3 linked regions of the Homo sapiens genome follow. The protein of the gene in region 1 interacts with the protein of each later gene in a pairwise test. Each region holds a gene or a part of one and is shown in the gene's direction. Other genes may lie near its edges.

What was found.
Region 2: the proteins of CYREN (region 1) and MKLN1 interact in binary tests that used the Homo sapiens proteins (3 or more experiments, as listed by UniProt).
Region 3: the proteins of CYREN (region 1) and ERCC6L2 interact in binary tests that used the Homo sapiens proteins (3 or more experiments, as listed by UniProt).

Annotation. Positions count from the first base shown.
Region 1 is NC_000007.14:135,167,681-135,175,720, reverse strand, and holds the start of CYREN (cell cycle regulator of non-homologous end joining), read left to right. Parts: upstream 1-5,013; 5' UTR 5,014-5,069; exon of another isoform or gene 5,070-5,445; intron 5,446-6,246; exon of another isoform or gene 6,247-6,299; intron 6,300-6,660; 5' UTR 6,661-6,798; coding exon 6,799-6,935; coding exon of another isoform or gene 6,936-6,972; intron 6,973-7,913; coding exon 7,914-7,989; exon of another isoform or gene 7,990-8,040. UniProt on the Homo sapiens protein: Cell-cycle-specific regulator of classical non-homologous end joining (NHEJ) of DNA double-strand break (DSB) repair, which can act both as an activator or inhibitor of NHEJ, depending on the cell cycle phase.
Region 2 is NC_000007.14:131,442,841-131,449,947, forward strand, and holds part of MKLN1 (muskelin), read left to right. Parts: intron 1-640; coding exon 641-862; intron 863-2,933; coding exon 2,934-3,063; intron 3,064-7,107. UniProt on the Homo sapiens protein: Component of the CTLH E3 ubiquitin-protein ligase complex that selectively accepts ubiquitin from UBE2H and mediates ubiquitination and subsequent proteasomal degradation of the transcription factor HBP1.
Region 3 is NC_000009.12:95,920,615-95,927,721, forward strand, and holds part of ERCC6L2 (DNA excision repair protein ERCC-6-like 2), read left to right. Parts: intron 1-560; coding exon 561-701; intron 702-1,690; coding exon 1,691-1,804; intron 1,805-2,645; coding exon 2,646-2,765; intron 2,766-7,107. UniProt on the Homo sapiens protein: Promotes double-strand break (DSB) end-joining and facilitates programmed recombination by controlling how DNA ends are joined in a spatially oriented manner during repair.

The DNA of each region.
Region 1 (8,040 bases):
TTCTGCTGTGTAACTTTTTTCTCAATCTAGAGAACCGCATTCTATCCCATGCTGTTTACTATTAATAGCGGCACAAGCATCAAATTTTAAGGTTACATTTTTGGGGACCCCTCTTTCTTCTGTTCTAGCTATTACCTTACTTGTGTCACCTAGAAAAGGACCAGTCCTTAATTTTATTTTAAAAACTGTGATCATGGGAGGCTTAAAATGGGTCATAACGCGCATCAGGTTGGTTATTTCCTGGGCTACATACCTTGGATAGAATAGCATTATACAAACAAGTTTCTTTTAGAGTCCTGGTACACTTATAATAACCATAAAATAATAGGACTGTAGCAATCTTTTGTCCTACCTTAGTGACTTGATGTATATACTGGAAACAGTTCTCAGTCTGAGGAAGGTCAGTTGAAGTCCTTACCGTTCAAGTCCAAATTTTAAGGAAAATGAGTCTGTGATGAGTTTCCTCATGTTTCAGCCGTGCGTGGACCAGTCAGCTTCCAGGTGTGACTGGAGCAGGGCTTGTCGTCTTCTTCAGAGTCACTTTGCAGGGGTTGGCGAAGCTGCTCCCATCCATGTACAGCTCCCAGCCTACTGATGTTTAAGGGTGGTCTCGGTGGTTGGGCCTACTAGAATAAACTGAGTCCAGATATGGTTAACTGGGCTCTCTGATACCAGGAGGAAGGTGGCAGGGTTTAGGGTGTGCAAACGTCAATGGTTATGTGGGGATTTTCACAGAGCTAGCTTTGGCATCTAGTTAGTCTAGCATTCATCTAGCATGGTGTCCTTTGGTATTTATTAAAATCACCACAGCATGGGGGGAGTTTATGTTTAGGTTTTGTGTAAGAGTTAGCTTATCTGCTTCTTGTGACAGGGCCGTTGCTACCAGGGCCCTTGGACATGGGGGCCAGCCTTTGGAAACCCCATCTAGTTGTTTTGAGAGATAGGCCACTGGCCTTGGCCAGGGCCCTACAGTCTGGGTTAAAACTCTAACTGCCATTTTTTTTGTTTCTGACACATAGAGCGTAAAGAGTTTTGTCAGGTCAGGTAGCCTCAGGGCTGGGGCCGACATGAGTTTTTCTTTTTAACTCATGAAAAGCTCGTTGCTGTTGGTTGTAATAGATGTAGTTTATCTAATCTACATTTTTATTGACTGTCATCTACCAAAATATTGACTTAAATCCTGTAACTATTTGATTTCAAGCTTTAAATTGATCTGGGACTCCTTGCGGGGCTTCAATTGCATCTAAATAGATGTGAGAGTTGAAAGACCTATAAGGAGCTTTTCTCGCTTTATGATGTCTTCTTCTTATTATTATTTTTTCCTCTTGTTGATGAAATGTCAGGGTGAAAGGGATAGCCAAATGGACTAAAGCACAAGTGCCACTCTAGTTACTCGGCAGAGTCCCCAATAAAGGTCTACCACAATACCACCACACATCCGCTTTGGGATGAACAAGGGCTGACTGATTGATAAGCTCTTGAAAATTCTTAAGCTCACTGCATCCCTTCAGGTCTCCAAGGAATGCTAAGTCTCCTCCCTGCCATGAGAGACACGTAGTGAACTTAGTGTTGGGAGATGGAAGCTGGATGGCCCTCGGGGGCTGACCTGCAGGGACTTTGGGATATAGCAGAGAGAGCTTGGCATGACTTATTACTCCAGGCTATAGAATCCTGGAAAAGAGCTACCATGCAGCCCATGCCTGGCCGACTGGAGGACCACCTTAGTGGAAGGGGGACAATCAGGGCCTCTGGCCTGCCATGTGCACAAGCATGCTAATTGCTTTTGTTTAACCTGCAGATGGAATATTTGATCCATTTCAACCAGGCATTTGCATCTTGGTATGCTGTCTTAATTGCCAAAGTTTGTTTTAAGTCTTTAACTTTTATGATCCTCTAGTAAAATGAATGCTTCCTTTAGCACCAATTTTTATTAGTTTTTAGACAAAAGAAAGCTAAACACTATTTTATATTTACTAATGCTTCCTGTATGACTTTTATACCAGATAAGCTAAATTTTACCTTTATATTAGTGTGTTATTAATGTTAAACTTAATTTTAATAAAACCTTGTAGACATATTTATCCAATTTTTTATGTTTGACCATAAGGTAAGATTTTATAGACTCTTTTTAACCTTTTATAATTTTTGTTAAAGAGCAGGTTGATGCTTTAAGAAAAACCTCTTGCATTTTTACTTTAATGTCCAGTTCACAGAAAAACTGGATGATACCTTTTTAACCTTAGCTAATATGTTTACACACAGAATTTTTTTTATAATTAACGTTTTAAAGCTTGCTTAAACTTTTAAAACAATAATTTTTTTAACCTTTTAATGTAGGTAAAAATCCACGTTTATGCCCCTTTATAATTTTTTTTTTTACCAAAGGTATATTTTACTTTTCTTATACATCTTGCACATGAACTGGTTTTTTTTTTTTAAATAGTACTCAGGAGGCCTCATTACTTTTAAATTATACAATATTTTTTGCATAAAAATTTTTTTTTATAATTTTTTTCTCACGACTTTCCCAGACAATTTTTTAACATGTCTCAATTTTTTGACTGATTAACAAACTTTTTTTTCTTTAAACAACCAGTTAATTTATTTCAGGACAAGAATTTACCATATAACTTTTTTTTAATATAAATTCTGCCTCCCCCCTTTTCTTTCCTTTTTAAAAAAGCGAACTTTCTTTATGTCTTTGGACTAGACTGTCTAAGGCCACAAGATTAGAAGTTACCAAAATACATGTTACACTGTTAACTTTTAGCAAACTTCACTTTTGTTGAAAACCTTGTAAGTTTGAGATTTCAATTATCCTTTGCTATTAATAAGAACTTGTTTAGTCTAAACTCTTAGAATTGGTACAGATGGCCTCTTTTTCTCTTTTCTGGTCGTTCCTTGGCTCTGCCAGCCGCTTATGCTGCTGTTCTCTTAACTACTGTGGTGGGGGAAAGGGGGTCTAAAACCAGCTGTAACTGTCTATGTACAGAAACCGGTCTGGGTGCTTTGGCTTACAGGTTACCTTGTGCCATACCTTTGAAACAAGGGACCTGTCCAGGCTTCCTTCTGGTGGCCAACCTACCTCTAATGCTAGCCAGTCTATTTCACACAAAGTTCTAAGTTTTCCTGGTGTCATACTAACACCGTAATCTCCTTTAAATTCTCTCTTGAAAAAAAATTTTTTTAACATAGGTCCCAGTGGGGTGGGCTTACTTTGCACCTGACCCATGTTTTTTTTTTTTTTTTTCCAGACAAAATACCACGCTCACACCACACATACCACAAGACAAAGAACAGGTAAAGAGGGCACACACACTTTTACCGTTTATACCAAACCAAAATCACGAAATTCAAAATCCGAGTACCAAAAAATTCAAGCCAAGTCAAAACCAAAACCAAAGTATCCAGCAATTCAAGTCAAGTCAAAACCAGAACAAGAGTGCCCATGCAGGCATGCTGTGGGTGATCAGGCCACGTTTCCACTCAGATGGAGTGGGGCAAGTTCCAAAGACTAGTCTTACCAAGTCAAGCCAAGTCAAAACCAGAACAAAAGTGCCAATACAGGCACACCGTGGGTGATCAGGCCACGCTTCCACTCACGTGGAGTGGGGCAAGTTCCAAAGACTAGTCTTACCAAGTCAAGCCAAGTCAAAACCAGAACAAAGATGTCAATACAGGCACACCGTGGGTGATCAGGCCATGCTTCCACTCACATGGAGTGGGGCAAGTTCCAAAAACTAGTCTTGACAAGCTTCAGATGTCTGGACTTCAAGTGCCAGTTCCTTCCCGGTGTTCAGCCAGTGTTAATCCTTCTCGGGAGCCTGCTATGCGCTGCTCTGGCAAGGCATTCCACCGGGGCCATTTCCTACCCGGGAGCGCTCTTTGGATTGCGTCAGTCAGGCTGGCCGGAGTCCTCTGCAGGGACGCTCCACAGGGCTTGTCAGTCACCTCGCTTCCTGGTCAGGGAACCAAGGACTGTAGCAGGACAAGCCACAGACAAAACCTCTCAGACACGGAGCTGTAGAAGAAAGGGCTTTATTCAGCTGGGAGCATTGGCAAGCTACTGCCTTAAAATCCGAGCTCCCCGAGTGCACAATTTCTGTCGCTTTTAAGAGCTCACAACACTAAAATTTCACATGAAAGGGTCGTGATTGATTTGAGCAAGCAAGGGGTACGTGACAGGGGCTGCATGCACCGATGGTCAGGGAGAAACAGAACAGGGCAGGGAGTTTCACAATGTTCTTCTATAGAATGTCTGGAATCTATGAATAACATCGGTTTCTAAGTCATGAGTTGATTTTTAACTACTAGGTTTAGGCCAGGCAGGCCCAGGTCCAGTTTTGGGCCTGGCGCTGGGCTGCCTGTCTTTGATTTCACTTCCTTTTTTTTTTAAAAAAAAAAAAAAAAACAGGTACTGAGTATAAAACAATATGAGAGGGTCTCTCTCTTCCCTCGCTTTAACTTTCGGAGGGCTGAAATTCTTTCTAGCCTTGGTTAATACAGCAATTCATTCCATTCTAGCTATTGTTATTTCTCTTACTATAATTTTACTATTAGTACTTACGCTATTCTATTATTTTCTTAATTTTCCACTTAATTAGGATAACAAACCGAGGCCGGGCTCCCATCCTCCTCAAGCACACGAGGGGGGCCTGGCCCAGCAGGGAGCTTCGCCTGGTTTCTGAGGGAATTCCCGGCGGGCCTTTCCAAAACATGCCCGTTCCCTTCCGCTAACTTCAGGGGCCAAGAATTGAACTTTCACCCTCCTCAAGCCGGTGGCGCTGCCTCGCTGGCGTTCCCAGCGCGCAGCCAACCGGATGCCAGCCGGCGGCATTACCACTGCCAGCATGGGGCGCCCGCGGACCTCCGACTGAGGCAGCTGCCGGGAGCCGGAAGTGTCCCGGGCGCCGGGACTGCGAGGGGGCCGGGAGTTCCCCAAGACCGGAAGTGTCCCGAGGCCGGGAGCCCGCGGGACCCCGGAGCGCGCGGGGCCGGAAGAGGCGGGCGGCCAGTGGAGGTCCGCAGAGTTTGGGCGCCAGGCGAGACGGCAGGGCTTAAAGTTCCGGGTGAGGCGTGGGTCCCACAACCGCTTGGAATTTGCCTCCCGGCTCCGCTCTGGAAGCTAAGAAGGGGCACGAGAGCCGGAGACGGGAACCTGAGAGCAGGGAAGCCAGTAGCCGGCCGGAGGAGCGCGCGGCCGCTCCAGTCGGAAGGAGCCGTTGCAGCCCTGCCCGGCGTGTGGCGGGGTCAGCGAGGCCCCTGCGGTGCTTCGCCCGCGCCTTCCGCTCCGCACTCACCCGCCCTCTGGGCCTCCCACAGGTCGGCGCCGCCAGCGGCGGGTACCGGCCCGCAGAGGGAGGGCGGGCTGTGAACTGGCAGCACATCGCGTTCCCGCGGGGCCCCCATTCTGCCCAGGCAGGGAGCGGCTGGGATGGGACTGAGGTCGGTCCGCGAGCGCGGTGCCCCAGAGACCCGGCTTCTGGAAGTTGCCGCGGCCTGCTCTTGGGGCCCAGAAGTAGGGCGGGGAGGCGCGGGGTCTGGAGTCTGCAGGACCTGGCTGCGAATCCAACCAGCTGATTTCAAACTTTTCTGTGATCTTCTGCAAGTTAACTAAGTCTCAGTTCCTCGTTTGCGAAATGTACTTAATAGGCACCCCAGGGTGAACTAAATTTGTCCGCACAGACTGCAGCATTGCGCTTGGGAGGCGCCTTAGGGGGTAGGAGTCACTAATATCACTGAGTTTTGACAGAAATGAAGGTGCATTGGCAAAGGTGTGCCCCATGGCCGGGCAGGTTAGGAGGAGGGCCTGGTAATATTTTTTCTTAAATTGTAAACAGCCATCTGGATGAGCAATGCATTATCAAATTATGATTCAGAGAGGACTATCGCTGACTACTCTTTTTTTTGGGCAAACCTCCGCTTCAGGAGCTTCTGGCTTGATTCCTAAGTGGAAGGTAGAGACCTAGGCCCTCTGAGTCACAACTCCATCTCTCTGGGTGAGGACTGAGCTCCAGGACTGCTGAGTGGAGGCAGAACAATTGGGATAGGGAAAAGAGAGGCCAAACTAGATCAGAGGCTGGCGTGGGCTTCAGAATCTACAGACTGGCACAGTTAATGCCTCCGGGCCCCTATTGCTGCTTCAAGTTTGACCAATCAGAAGTATCTTTAGCTTAAGGGCGGCGTGTTGGCCAATGAGACTTTATTGTGAAATAAAATGCCCTCAGTTTCATTTAACTGAGCCACCATAGAAGAGTAGAGAAATCGAGTTGGCCAGATGAGGGAGAGGCCATTAAGAGGTATTTTAGGGATTGAATGGGCTGGGCACCCAGAGGACAGTGGCATTTGGGGTGGTAATGAGAAGGAACATTAGGGGCCTCCGCCTCCTTCCGTTCCTCCTGTGCTGAGTCAGTCAGCACAGAGGCTGCAGGAGGTATCTCTGGTTGGCTTTGGCTGCCTGTAGGGGGCACCAGCTTTGGGGAGGTCAGAGGGCTCTCTCCTGAGCTGCTGTCCTGCCCACAATCACACCTGCCTGATGCCTGTGAATGGCCGTCTGAGTCTCTTGGGCCTTGGTCACTTCTGGCCTGCCCTGCACCGACCAGTAACTGTGCCTGATGACTGGAGGTATGGGAATTCACCGGACTTTATTGTTCTTTGTAGGAATCAAAGATCAACTCCCACTGAGGACAAATGGACCTGTAATTCCGGGTGTGACGAGAGAACGAGATTTACCTTCCTGAATTAAAAAACAGGTCATTAAGCTTGGGCCCTGACTCTTCTTTGTGAGAAGGTACAGAGATGGAAACCTTACAATCCGAGACTAAAACGAGGGTCCTTCCCTCATGGCTGACAGCCCAGGTGGCTACAAAGAATGTGGCACCAATGAAGGCCCCCAAGAGGATGAGAATGGCAGCAGTGCCAGTGGCAGCAGCAAGGTGCGACAGCTCTGGTCAGAAGACTCCTGCGAATCTGGCAAGTGGAGCAGGGGCCTCCATGACCTGGGCCAGGTCTTCCAGCCTAGGCAGAACAGCAAGATGGGCGGGTGTTTCAGTCTGATCATCTCTTGAGCTTTTAGAAGGTGGAGGGGCTGTGGGCGGGAGGCAAAGCGGGTTAACCCTCGAGGACAGGCACCCACTTCTGCCTCTGCACTGGTGAGTGCCCTGCCCTCAGCACACACAGAGTGGGTTCTCCATGTCAGCCAGTCTCTGATGCCAGTTGTCCAGAATGCCAGTCTCTTCCTTTACAACAAACATGGTAACATCAGATGGGCAAGATCAGTGGAAGGGTCTGTTCTGAGTGGTGCCTGCCCCTGTGGACAGACCTTTAGGGATGGACAGATGAGCAGCAGCTGCAGGGCCAGCAAGAGCTAAGGAGCTGGGGAGTGAGTTAGTTGAATGACGGTAATTGCCGGGGGGGGGCGGGGGGGGGGTGGTGAGTCTCCAGGCTGCACTGTGAAGTGGGCGGGGCCCCAGCACTCGGTGTTTCCCTCTCTGGCTCCTCCTCCTCTAAGGTTTCCTGACTGACAGCCTTCCCTTGTGACTGCTGCCGTCTTTCCCTAAGTCTGGTCCTGCTTTCAGGTTCCTCTCAGTACAGCCTCAGCCCGAGGTTCCCTTCCTCTTGCATCCATGTGTGTGTTTCAGAGGCGGCCATCCTTCCCTACTTCCAGATCCTTGTAGGGCAGTTGGTGGAGGGTGGGAGGCACCCCGGTGTTGCCTCCATGAAGCCCTGTGCCAGTCACTGGGCTGCAAGGCTGAGGAAATTGTGTCCGTGTCAGAAAGCTCCTCAGCTCAGAGGTGCTGGTACCTCCTGCGTGGTAGGAAGGCAGGGGGAAGAGGCCCTGCTTCTCCTGTTCTCTTTGCCCTTATGAGACTTGAGAGTCTGTGTCATCTGTGCCTTGCATGTCTTTTTTTCAGACTCCCTGCGACAAGGACTGTGTACTGCATGAATGAGGCTGAGATAGTTGATGTTGCTCTGGGAATCCTGATTGAGGTAAAGTCAGACAAGCCTCTTACTCATGACCAGAAACTCTGCATGGGCAGA
Region 2 (7,107 bases), 3.7 Mb from region 1:
AAGAATAAAGCTTGACTTTTAAACATGAAGTGTATAGCTTAATTCAAAGAAAATTAAATAGTGCTATGTTAAAAGTAGGCAGAGTTCTTCACATTGTAGAAGTCAGTCTGGAGACTTGATTGTTGTAAATGTCCTTTTGTTTGTTTGTTTTACTGTTTTGTAACATAATCTGAAGGGTTTTATAAAAATAAATGCAGAGAGGTGAATTTAGCTTCACCACTCTTATTTGCATATCTGATCGCTTAGTAAATGGTAGTAATATTAATAGGATGCTTGCCTAGAATGAAAGAAGGGAATTTTTATAAGGAGGGTATGATCACTATTCACCCAGAATATAAGTATTCACTCTTACATATAAATCAACGCCTCATGTATCATTGGTTGATTTTGATAAAAATTATGCAATTTCAAGAAAGCAGAAAGCTCTTTATTCCAACATGTTTTTACCCTCACTGACAAAAATGACAACTTGAAAAATTATTTAGAAACTTGCATATGATAATCAGGGGTGGTATTTAGTGTCATTAGGGACAAAGTTTAGGGTTTTTTTGAGAATGTAAAACTGTACATGTTGGTTTTGTTTTAGCACATATGACAGGAACAAACTAAAACTATTCAATCTGTTGCCTTGTTCTGATAGATGTGTATGGACTCAGAAAAACATATGATCTACACTTTTGGTGGTAGAATTTTGACTTGTAATGGCAGCGTAGATGACAGCAGAGCCAGTGAACCACAATTCAGTGGCTTGTTTGCTTTCAACTGTCAATGTCAAACCTGGAAACTTCTTCGAGAGGACTCCTGTAATGCTGGGCCTGAGGACATCCAGTCTCGAATAGGACACTGCATGTTATTCCACTCAGTAAGAACATTCCGTACATTGCGTAAATGTTATTTTGTCATGTATATCTAGATAGGAAAAGAAGTGGTGAAATCTAATTCTTTAGGAAGAGATTAGTGTAGCAATGACAGAGAAAGACAAAACTTCTTTAACAGTGAACTGTTTGCTAATTATGAGACTCTTCCCATCAACCTGGTAATTCCTAAATAGTTACTACCTGGCTACCAACCTGGGCAATCTTATGACTAATTTCACTGCTTATGTAGATTTTGTAGCTATGTTCCTTTCTTATGCCTTTCCACTTACGTCTCTTAGTAATTAGAAGGACAATTTCTTACTCTGTTCTTATTTTCCCTTCTGCTATTCTCCATTAAGTACAAAGAATTTAAGATTTGATTTTATAGAATTAGAATTTAAATGTATCAGCAATGGTCAGGAGCAGTGGATCACTTGATTCCAGAAGTTTGAGACGAGCCTGGCCAACATGGCGAAACCCCATCCCCAGTAAAAATACAAAAATTAGCCTGGCGTGGTGACCTGTGCCTGTAGTCCCAGCCTCCCAAGTAGCTGGGATTACAGGCATGCACCACCACGCCCGGCTAATTTTTTGTATTTAGTAAAGACAGGGTTTCACCATGTTGGCCAGGCTGGTCTTGAACTCCTGACCTCAGGTGATCCACCCGCCTCTGCCTTCTGCGGTGTTGGGATTACAGGCATGAGCCACTGTACCTGGCCACTTTCTTGATGCTCAAATTTTTCTCTTTGGCTAGTAGGAGCACCCCCCACAACATATTTATGTATCTTTTTTTGTAAGAGAAAAATTAAATTGTGAATTCATACTGATATGTCTGATTCAAATAAAATATTTTTTATCTTAATGTCTTCTATTTTGTAACTTTATATCTTTTCTTTTTACCCCGACTGGAGCGCAGATCGTAGCTCACTACAGCCTTGAATGTCAGGGCTCAAATGATCCTCTCACCTTAGCCCCCCAAGTAGCTAAAACTACAGGTGTGTACCACCACACCTGGGTTTTGAGTAGTAGTAGTAGTAGTAGTAGTAGTAGTAGTAGTAGTAGAAGAAGTAGTAGTAGTAGTAGTAGTAGTAGTAGTAGTAGTAGTAGTAGTAGTAGTAGTAGTAGAAGTGGAAGTGGAAGTGGAAGTAGGAGACAGGGCCTTGCTGTGTTGCCCAGGCTGTCTCAAGCAATCCTCTCACCTTGGCCTGCCCAAATGCTAGGACTACAGGTGTGAGCCACCATGCCTGGCCTATTTTTGTGTCTTTTAAGGTTAAAATCCTGCTTCATAACATTAGTTGCTTTGTCTGTCTATAATAGCTTTCACAGTAAAGAAAACTAACAACAGAATCACTGAGTGCTGTTTAACGTTGCTTTCTGATTATTTTTCTGTTTAGGATTTAGACTTCTAGGGATGGGTAGTCAAAAAGTATGTATTAAAATCATTAGAAATACTATTTCTGTGTCTGAGTATATCTTTATATACAGATAGGTTTATTTGTTGGATTTTTTTTGCCCAAATTTTAGATTTTTTTTTTGAGTTAATTTTGTCTTCTAATTAAATAAAAGCATATACATTGTTCTAAAGTCAAAACCATACATCAAGGTATTATTTTTGGAGAGGTCTTCCTGCTCTGTTCCTGCCACTATAGGTAACTGTCTTTTATTAGGTTTTGGTTTATCCTTCCTTTGTTTTTCAAAAAAAGAAGCAATCTCTATTCTCGCTCTCGCTTGCGTGCTCTCTCTCTCACTTTTCCCCTCTCTCACATTCTCTTTCCCTCTCTCCCTCTCTTTTTGTCTGATGCACAGATATTCCTTCTTCTCCATTCCTACACAAAGGAAGAAGGAACCTGTATATATTATTCTGCACCTTGCTTTTCTTCTTTAACAGGATGTCCTAGAGATCCCCTTTTAGCAATATGTAGAGAGCTTCCTCTTTCCCTTTTATTCCAGCATAGTACTCCATTGGGATCTGTTATAAAATTACTTTTGTAGAGGTTTAAGTTTTTAAAGGATCATTCTGAGTTCTTCATGGAAGTGATAAGTTACTCCTTTCTTTTTTTTTTTCTTCTTTTTCAGAAAAATCGTTGCTTATATGTATTTGGTGGCCAGCGATCAAAGACCTATTTGAATGATTTCTTTAGTTATGATGTGGACTCTGATCATGTAGACATAATATCAGATGGCACCAAGAAAGACTCTGGGATGGGTAAGGGCATTGAGTGATTTCTTCTCTCATGTCTTAACTACTTTAGGTAGAAAACTGCAGTTCATTCTCTTTTCTTTCTAATCATTTTTCACCCTTTCTTTATTTCTTTAATTGAGTAATTCCAAGTAAGAGAAAGAAAATTCTACCAGCTTATTCAGTTCTATCTATTTTTAAATATGGGAATTACTATTTCCTTCAAGCAGAAAATATGTGAATTTCTAAATGAATTGTGTGTGTGCTTGTTGGGGGGCGGGGTAGGAAGAATCAATATCTTAAAAACTTTTTATTCTGTGTTTGCTAATTTTTTTCATCTTCTATTTTCACTGTAGTGATCTTTATATTAGGCACTAGCATAGTAGGGTGTGTGTCTTAAGGGGGGAACTTCATGGGATTGGTAACACCTTGTAAGTTTAAAAGCTCAGCATCTAGGAGGTTATTAGTAGTGGAATGGCTGGTTTGCTTAGATTATGCATATTGCCCTGGCATAATTATTAATAGTGCTCCATTCATTTTCAAAAGTGTCCTGTTTTGATCATTTATAGTTACCCTACATAGTAGTTGCTTTGCCTGTGATTATTGTACCTAAAAGAGTGGCTTTAATTAAGGTGCAATGGTTTAAAATGCTAATTTGAACAATAGAGTGAGAAATTAAATCAGCTGCTTTTCTTTTTAGCTGTTGCTTATAGATTGGTGTTTTTATTATTGGCTCTTTTGCCAAATGTGGATAAAAGCACTTGTTTCACAGACATTGTTTCTGGATATTTTATTGATTAATACAAGCTTCCTTTAAAACAAAAACAACAAAAATATTTTTAAATTAAAATATTTGTTCACATTTAAGAAGAAAAACTTGTTTTAAAACAAACAAACAAAAAAACAAAAGATAGGCAAGGCACAGTCGCATATGCCTGTAATTCCAGCTAGTCCAGAGACGGACATGGGAGGATTGCTTGAATCTAGGAGTTTAGGACCAGCCTGAGCAACAAAGCAAGACCCTGTCTCTACAAAAAGGAGGTTTCCAGATAAAAGTAGACTCAATAGATATGTTAAGCATTTGGAAGAAAAATCTGTTGATGAGTATAAATAGCATCTAATGTAAAAAACGAAGGATAGGGACACAACAGGAAAAGCGAAACTTTTTATAAAAAAGGAGACATTATCACAGTAAATTTCTTGGCTTTACAGTAAGCAGTATTTCCCTAATCATAATGCAGAACTACAGCCAGTTTAACCAAAAATTGGGATGAAATATAGTGGGAAGATAGTGTAAGTGTAGTAAACATCTTCGTCTATTACAACAGGAAATTAGTAGGTAATGTCTAAAATAGCAGCTTAGCATGTGATTTAGAAATATGGACCTGAATAGGTAATAACATTATTTACCCTATCTAAAATTGTCTTATTTACTCATTTATTTACTGTTGCCATAGGAGAGTGTAGAGCTATATGATTTAATATTTGACTTTCTCTGGCTTTTAAGAGTTATTCTAACTTACCATTAAAATAACTAGGAGGGTCAGGCGCAGTGGCTCATGTCTTTAATCCCAGCACTTTGGGAGGCTAAGGTGAGAGGACTGCTTGAGCCCAGGAGTTTGAGACTAGCCTGGGCAGCATAGTTAGCCCTCATCTCTATAAAATAAAAATAAAATAGCAGGAGAGAGGTAATACTCCTTCTACAATCCTAAGATGGGTCTCCCTGAAAAAGGTAGTGAAGATAGTAATTGATATGACAATATGTTGAAAATTATGGCATGCTGACTCAGTGCTAGACTACGGACACAGTGGATACAAGGCAATCACAGTCTCTCAAAGTGCTTATAATCTAGCTAGTAGGTAATGTATTCCCATGGATAATAATTACTACTCTTTATTTAGACCCTACCATATACCAGAATATCTTTAATTGGTGGTATTATTCTAATGTACAAGATGAAAACAGTTACACAACTACGTAATGACAGAGCTGGGATTTAGAAGTTTGAGTGCAAGGAAGGTGTTTCTGCCATGCTAAACTACTGCCCAAGATTAAAAGAAAAAAGTGGCGGCCACGTGAGGTGGCTTACACCTGTAATCCCAGCAGTTTGGGAGGCCAAGACAGGTGGATCACGAGGTCAGGAGATCGAGACCATCCTGGCTAACGTGGTGAAACCCCATCTATACTAAAAATACAAAAAATTAGCTGGGCGTGGTGGCGGGCGCCTGTAGTCCCAGCTACTCGGGAGGCTGAGGCAGGAGAATGGCGTGAACCCGGGAGGTGGAGCTTGCAGTGAGCCGATATCACGCCACTGCACTCCACCCTGGGCGACAGAGCGAGACTCTGTCTCAAAAAAGAAAAAAAAGTGGCAATGCGTGATAGTGACAGAGAACTAGTAAAATAAAAATTCACCATGACAAGTAGGCTTTAATGACTGTCATTCAAAACAATTTTTTAATGAGTTAAAATTATGTAGTAATGTACAGTATCGACAATTATTCTTCAATCATGGTTATGGCTAGCTTTAGAGCAGTGTGGCAATTATTCTTTTTATTTAATTTTGTTGTGGTCATAAAAGTAAAAATATGCTCATTGTAGAGAATTTGAAAAATAAGATGCAAAAAAGAAAATATGTCAAACTGTCCAGAGATAACTTGTTAAAATTTTGATATATTTCTGTCTAGTCTTTTTAAAACTTATTTATTGTATAAAAGTTGATACAAGTTTGTATTCTATTTTAAAATTTACATTAAATTGTGGGATTTTTTCCATTATTGTGGTTTTATTAATGTGAACTGGAGATGTTATTAGAAAAGACAAATGGATTCATTGTTTGATTACTGCTATAATCAATTTTTCTAAAATCAAAATCACCATTTTTTACTGTGTGTGTTCAGTGTGTAATTGGTTTACACAATTGAATTTTCCCACAATGCAAATAAATTCATTAATAATATTTGTTGACCATCTACTAGCATCTAAGTTTGTCCCTCTCCCTTCCTCCTTCCCTCCCCACTTAGTTCATTGTCTTCTGTAGGCCCAAGATTATTTTAGGCACTTGGGATTCATCTATGGACCTGGAGGATAAGATCCTTTCCCTTAGAGGACTCACATTCTAGTGGAGAGAGACCTGCAGTTGTGTTCTAAGTACTGTGAATAAAATACACTGGATGCCGTGATAATGAATAACAAGGGAAGTCTCATTTAAACAGAGTAGGTTGGGAAACCATCTTTGAGGAGGTAATCTTTAAGATTTAAGATGAAAAGTAGAGAATTAGGAAGAACCATGTGAAGAACTGAGAGAAGAACAAGTACAGAGTTCCCAAAGCAGGAAGGAACCTGGGATGTTCAGAAATAGTGGGACTGGTACGTATTGAGGATTGGAAAAGTTGGTATGAAACTAGGTTAGAGCTACGGAGATAAGAGTCAGAGTATTTAGTGCCTTGTTACAAATGCAAGGAGTTTGGATTTTTTTTCTGAATAAAATAGATTATTCAAAGGTTTAATATCAGTGTCTTGATCTAAGTTTTAACAATACCACTTCTTTGTCTAGGTGTATATTTTCCAAGTGGTTAATTTTGACAATGTTCCTGTGAGTTGCATTGTTCAAAGGCTTGTTTACTGAGGATTTTTATGGCAGGGTTGAGCATCTGGTTAGAATTACTTGGAAAAATTTCCCACCTAAAACTGTTGCAGTTATACTTGGAATTGAGGAACCTCAGTGACTCTGTTAGCACATTAGAGTGAAATGGAAATTATTCTCTTTTTTTCTGTTTTTTTTTCCCCTCATCTCTGCCTCTCTCACTTTCTTCCTTTTCCCTCCTTCCCATTCTTTTTCCCATGTCCCTTTTACTCCTCCCCCAACTTTCTCTCTCCTAGAGGATTCTAATATGCGGCTGGGATTGAGAACCACTGTTCTAGCTCTCCGGAGTCTATTTCAGTCCTTAGTTAACCTTAAGCAAGTTACCTAATGTCTCAGCTTTTGCTTCCACATTTGTAAATGACCCAAATTAGATTTTAAGGAAAATAGCGTCTCTGTCCATGGCTACCCTAGGAGTAGAGATGGGTTA
Region 3 (7,107 bases), on another chromosome or scaffold:
TTCATATTATGATTTCTTTTAATTAAAAAAATTCTATGAGGTTTATTTGAAAGTGAAATTATACTTTATATTATCCAGGGTGGGGTGGAGAGCAAAGAATATAAGACAGTCAGTAGAAATCATCATAATGATGTAAATAGAGGGAAAAATTAGTTTATAGCAATTTTCACTATTTTTTTTGAGACAGAGTCTCGCTCTGTCGCCCAGGCTGTAGTGCAGTGGCGTGATCTCAGCTCACTGCAACCTCTGACTCCTTGGTTCAAGCGATTCTCCTGCCTCAGCCTCCTGAGTAGCTGGGACTACAGGCGCGTGGCACCACGCCCAGCTAATTTTTGTATTTTTAGTAGAGATGAGGTTTCACCATGTTGGCCAGGATGGTCTTTATCTCTTGACCTTGTGATCCGCCCTCCTTGGCTTCCCAAAGTATTGGGATTACAGGCGTGAGCCTCTGCGCCCGGCCAGTTTTCACTGTTATAATCTATGAAATCAGATGTAGATTATGATTTTTATTATTGTTATAAACAAAATACTAATAACTACCTTGTATTTTATCTTGGCAGATGGTGTATTGTTCTTTGACAGATTTCCAGAAAGCTGTCTATCAAACAGTGTTAGAAACAGAGGACGTGACTTTGATACTTCAATCTTCTGAGCCTTGTACCTGTAGGAGTGGCCAAAAAAGGAGAAATTGTTGTTATAAGGCAAGCATTTCAATATATCTTTATAATCATGCTTTTGATTACATAGTACTCTCTTCTAGTGTAAAAGAAAGTAGCAGATGATAAAATACCTTTTCCTCAGACAGTTCTTTAAAGCTATGTCTTAAAAAATAGTTTTCAAAAATATTTTACAATATCAAATAGTAATCACATATAAAATACAATATTCAAATATATTTTCAAAAAGTTAATTGCAGAAAGTAAGCTTAATTTTGATATCCTCCATTTTAGCTTTTCTTGGGAAGTATCCTTTCATTTTGAAATTTCATTTCATTTTCAAGAAGTTTCTCATTATCCACTAATAGTAAACGAACATACTCTTGTATAGGAGGCTTAAAATACTATTCTGATGTTAGATATAGTGTCAATTTAATAGAAACTGAGTATCAAAGAAAGTGTTTTTTTTAAAGAAACAAAATTTATTTGTACTTTTTCTAACCTTTTGTTTATATTTCCTGCTCATGTTTCACCTCTGTTTTATTAAATTATGTCACATATCTGTGTACGTAGAGAAACCCTAAGTGAATATTTATCTAGTTTGATATTTATTTGGTCTCATTTATTTTGCTGTTTTTAACTACTTCCCTTTTTTGTAATAGCCCAGTTTCCTAGGAGCCTTGGAGCATAAATGAGAAGGGGTCTGCATAGCACTGCCACTGCACTTAGATTTTGTTACCAGGCACCTCGTAACAGCAACATTTCCATCACTGTGTGTCATGAGGATAAATACTTTCTGTAATAAGGATTTTCTCCCTTTATGAAAAATATAGTTGTATTATGATTTACCAAAAGTATGCTTCCACATTAGCTATTTGTGGATATTTTGTGCAATAGTTGACCATCATTTTCTTGGAATTTATTGTGCCAAAGTAACCCGATAATAAATGTTATTGTAAGTGATACATTTTATGATGTAAGCAGGTGCATAGCTATGCTGGTCCTTTTTATTTTCTATATTTTTCTGGTTACAGACCAATTCTCATGGTGAAACAGTGAAAACCTTGTATCTCAGTTACCTTACAGTCCTTCAGAAGGTAGCTAACCATGTCGCGCTACTGCAAGCTGCTAGTACTTCCAAACAACAGGTTTGGTTAGCATTTTACATTTCTTTGTGATGCTATTGTTGTGAATATTTTATAAAGTTTTAAAATAGTTATTAAATAAAGTTTTTGTGGATGAAATTTAAGAGGAAACTGATTTGCTTATTTTTAAATGTAGATATCAAGGAGTATGTGCACTTAAGTTTTTAATCAAAGTGAACAAATTTAAGCTTAATTTAAAATAAGAACTATCTTTTATGCCTTTAATAATGTTCATATCTTTATTTTTCAAAACAGTCTTTGGTATAATTACTAAATAACATATTTGATGGGTCAGTTCTATTCCTCTAATAATGTCTGTAATGGTATTTAATCTACTGGGTAAAATGAGGATTTATAATAATTTGTATATTAAATATTAGGGCTGTTTACCAAACTGGCAAAAATCAGTAATTTCAAAGTTTACTTTGGTTGTTTCCTTTTATTCTAGAGCACACATAAATGAAAAGATGTTTTTGTAATGATTTTATATTTTTTTCTGTTATAGTTGATGCCATTTAAATGTAATTTTGAAATCTCATAAGAATTTGATATTGTTCTTTGATAGTACTCTTTACTCTTTGGGAGTATTTAGCACCTTGTTTTGGAAATCTTAAAAAATTGAAAAGTAATGATCAAGTTAATAACCACATCATTAAGAATTCAGTGCCATACGTTTAACATATAACTTTAAGAGTTTTTGAATTCTTAGTCTGACTTAGGGAAGCAAAAATCTTTAAAGTAATACATTCTTTCTAAAAAGAATTTTTTTCATAAATTATTTCAATTTATACAGGTTTGAATGTGTTAAGTGGAAATATCTTTTCTTCTGCCTTTTCCCTTCAAGGAAACACTTATCAAAAGGATATGTGATCAGGTATTTTCCAGATTCCCAGATTTTGTGCAGAAAAGCAAAGATGCAGCCTTTGAAACACTTTCTGACCCTAAATACAGTGGAAAAATGAAGGTAAGTGCTCCTCTTTCAGGTTGCATACAGACATGATACACAAAATATTTATTCAGTGGTATGACAGAGACACCAACTAATCAGAACAGGTGCTCAGTCATTCAGAAGAGATGGTGGCTATGGACAAGTGGTGCAATTGTATCAGCATTTACTAGGTCACTATGAACCCCGAATACAGATGGTGTGCACTCGATAGGTCCTCTGTAGTAGTTGCTTCAAATATACTTCAAATTTTCCTTATTGATATATTGGACTTATGCCCTCTTAAAATGCGTGTGCTGTTACCACATAGATAATAGCTTGTCTTCAGATGTTTAAGGAAATAACCTACCAGAAATATAAAAGCTAATGCAAAACAGGGGGGTAAGGAAAGGCCTTACCTTGGAATTAGAGAAAGGAATTTCTTGAAGAGTTTAAGATGGGCAAGGTCTGTATGTCTAGAATTTTCTGCATGTTGTTTTTACTTGCAGAACTAGATCGTAAAGTTGCAAATAGTCATTTGTCATACACAGGAAAATTGACCTGTAGCTGTGCTGCTCTTGGTAATGTGTTACCGAGGGAAGGGTGGGAAAAGTAAGGCTAAGTTCTCCAACCTTGACCCAGGCCTTGGGCATTGCCTGTGGCAGCAGCATGAAATGCTGACAGCTTCCTGCCTCCTTGCAACAACAGAGTTTGTTTAACCCCTTAGTGTCTATCAAGAATCTTTATTTGTAGATTCACAGATTTTTACAGAACAAAACTCAACTTTGTTATAGTTTTTAAAAGGTAAGTTCTTTTTGACATAAAAAGAATAAAAAGGAAGTAGTTCAAAGCAGTTTTTGTTTTTTTTTTATAGAAATACTTTTAGCAATTGATCTAGATAAGTTCATCATGGTTTAGTTTGCTTGGGACCTCTAAAATCAATGAAATAAAATAGAAGGTAGGAATATACATACATACATAAAGACTATTGCATTAAAAACTTGCTTTTAAAAAATAAATGTTTATATTAATGAGGATATCATGTGATTTATTACCACAACAAATAATTCAAATCTAATGATATTTCCTAAGGTAGCAAATTTTTGTCATCCATTTCATTGACTTTAATTATTTTTAAATTAAAATATATAAAAAGTCCGGTTTAGAACTGAGCACTTACTATCCCACAGTTTAAACCAGTAGAACATTTCCAGAAATTATAGCCTCCTCTGAAAACTGCATTAGTCATTGCTACTCATTTAAATTTTATTCCCTGTGACTCTTCACTAAAAAATTGCCAGTCTTGAAATTAAGTTTTATAACTCTGCATTTTATATTTTTTATATATTCATTAATATATACTTGTAAAATATACTTTTAAAGTTAATCTCCCTAGGAATAATAGTGTCTGATTAAGAGAATGATTAAATTTAATTTTATTTTAATTTTTAGGAGGGAAAAGGTAAGCATAAATTGTTGCTGGAGGCTGGGTAGTATTTTTATATGTGAATGATGCAGGTAATTTACTTGGTTTGTGAGAGAGCACCAGCCAAACAGATGGATAGTAATAAGCTAGGGATATATTTTTAGGACTATGTTAAATCATTTGACTAACAGCATCATCTGGTCATATATTGATTTGGTAATGCAGACTTACAGGCTTATCATAGAATCATTGCCTATGGGTTTAAGAACTCTAAGAATTGAGTTGCATTTACCTTTTGAATTCAGGTGATAAAAGATCTTTGTTTAGCTTGTCTTGTCACAGGTCAGCCTGCAGGTGCAAGGACTCTGAACAGAATGCCTGCTATAATCTTTATAGCCTCAAAGCTACACTTATGACCCCACCTCTTTCTCTTGAGTGTCAGAGTTTTGACCTCAACTATCATTCAAGGGGTTAGTCACAAGTTGCAATCATTCACCTGATGAAAATCTTCACTTTTCTTTCTCTTGAGAAATGCCGCAGAGCCACTTACTGTGGAGGGTGGAAAAAAAGACAGGAATCCAGCTTGGTGCTGCTGAAGTCACACAAGGGTCATGTTCATCTTTCTAGGCCTGACTGACCAAGTTGAGGAAAGTTAAGATCCAAGGTTCCTTGCTGTTAACACCCCCAAATAATACGATTCCTTTATAGGTGGATTGTCTTGTTCTGTGGAGGACAACTGAGTGATAAAACATTGGGTCTATATTGTTAAGACTCCAACATCTGTTGATTACATTGTCATTTTGGAAATTTCTGGGATCTTAATTTATAGTCGTTCATTTAGTTAGTCTCTTTAAACTAGCCTAATTAAGATCTCCAGTCTAAAAACATTTACTTTTCCTGTGACTTGTTTTTGTTTTTACTGTAAAATACTTGAAAACACTTAAAGTTGCAATAGTTATGATACCACCCCAAATAATGAGAATGGATTTCTATACAATATATCCTTGGTTTAAAATGTTAATATCTTAAGAATGAAAAACAAACCACAGACTGGGAGAAAATATTAGCAAAACAATAAAGGACTGGTTTACAAATATACAGGTAACTCTTAAAGCTCAACAATGGGAAAGCAAACAATCCAATTGAAAAATGGGCAAAGGATCTGAACAGGTACTTCCCCAAAGAAGATAATAGAGATGGCAAATAAGCATGTGAAAAGATGCTCAACAACATATGTCATTAAAGAATTGCAAATTAAAACAGCAAGGAGATACCACTAGATACCTATTAGAACGGCCAAAATCCAGAACACTGTCAAGCCCAAATGTTGGTGAGGATGTGGAGTAACAAGAACCCCCATCTGCTGCTGGTGGGAATGCAAAATGGTATAGTCACTTTGGAAGACAGTTCAGTGGTTTCTCACAAAGCTCTTAACTAAAAAATATTACCTTAAATAGTCTTACTATATGATCCCGCAATTGTGCCCCTTGGTATTTACCCAAATGAGTTATAATGAATTAAATTTTATTGAGTTTTAATGAGTTAGAAACTTACATCCCGACAAGAACCTATGAGTTTATTTATAATTGCCAAAGCTTGGAAACAACTAAGATGTCCTTCAGTAGGTAAATGGATTAAAAAAGCTGTGGTACAGCCATACTGTGGAGTACTATTTAGCAATAAAAAGAAATGAGCTATCAAGCTACCAAAAGACATGGAAGAACCTTAGATGCATATTGCTGAGTGAAGGAAACCAGTCTGAAAAGGCTACATACTGTATAATTCCAACTATATAATACTATCAAAAGGCAAAACTATGGAGACAGTAAAAAGAACAGTGGTTGCTATGGGTTCTGGGGGAGGAAAGAATGAGTAGGTGAAGCACAAGGAATTTTTAGGGCAATGAAACAATTGTGTATGATACTGTAATGGTAGATACATGTCATGATATATTTGTCAAAACCCGTGAACTATGTAACACAATGAATAAACCCTAATGTAAATTATGGACTTTAGCTAATAATAATGTATCAATATTCACTCATCAGTTGTTACAAATAAACCACACCAATACTAATAATACTTGATGTTATATTTTCTAATAATATTATTAATACAGATATTAATAAGAGAAAGTGTGGAGGAGGTTGGAAGTAGGGAAAGAGGAGTTTTGTGCATTTTCTACTCAGTTCTGTAAAACAGAAAAAATAATATCTACCAATTTAAAAAGTCTTATGTGAAATTCAAATTACATACTTCATATAGAATCAGTTATTTTATTAAAAAATGAACTAAATGCAAATAAAACTTCATATGTTCTCCAAATGTGAAAGTAATGTTTACCCGATCCATAACATTTTTATTTACCATTTGATAAATAAATTTGGTTATCTGAGTAGAAGTTTTTTTTAACTCCATAGCTTTTTTTGAGGGACTAGGGGGAGGTAGAGGTCAAAGTTAGCACAATAGCTTCTCTTGATTGAGTAAGTGTTATATTGAGTATTTTTTTTATTTAAAAGCTTAAATGTTTATCATTAAATAAATTGTTTTAGTGTTTGTTTCATCTTTCAGAAGAATTTAGACTTTGTATAGAAAATTTCTTTTTCCCCTCTGTGGATTGCTTTTCCACATTGTTCTGGAGCTGTCATTGCCAGATGTGGAAATAAAAGTAACAGTGTGACTGTTATACACAAGGCTTTGGACTGTTTGTTTCCTCCCTGAAAGCACTGTGTGTGGGGGCAGATTACTGGCATTTTGAGGTCAAAATCAAATCTGGAAGTCAGAGCTTACTGTAAATAGAGAAACAAAGGGGAGAAAATGAGAAGAGGTGTGTATCTGACTGATTATTCTAAGAAAATAAATATCAAGACTTTTAGAACCTAGATGTAATTGAACACATTTCATTACATCCATCTAGGGACAATTTAAATACTTCCTAAAAGGAATGCTGCTCTA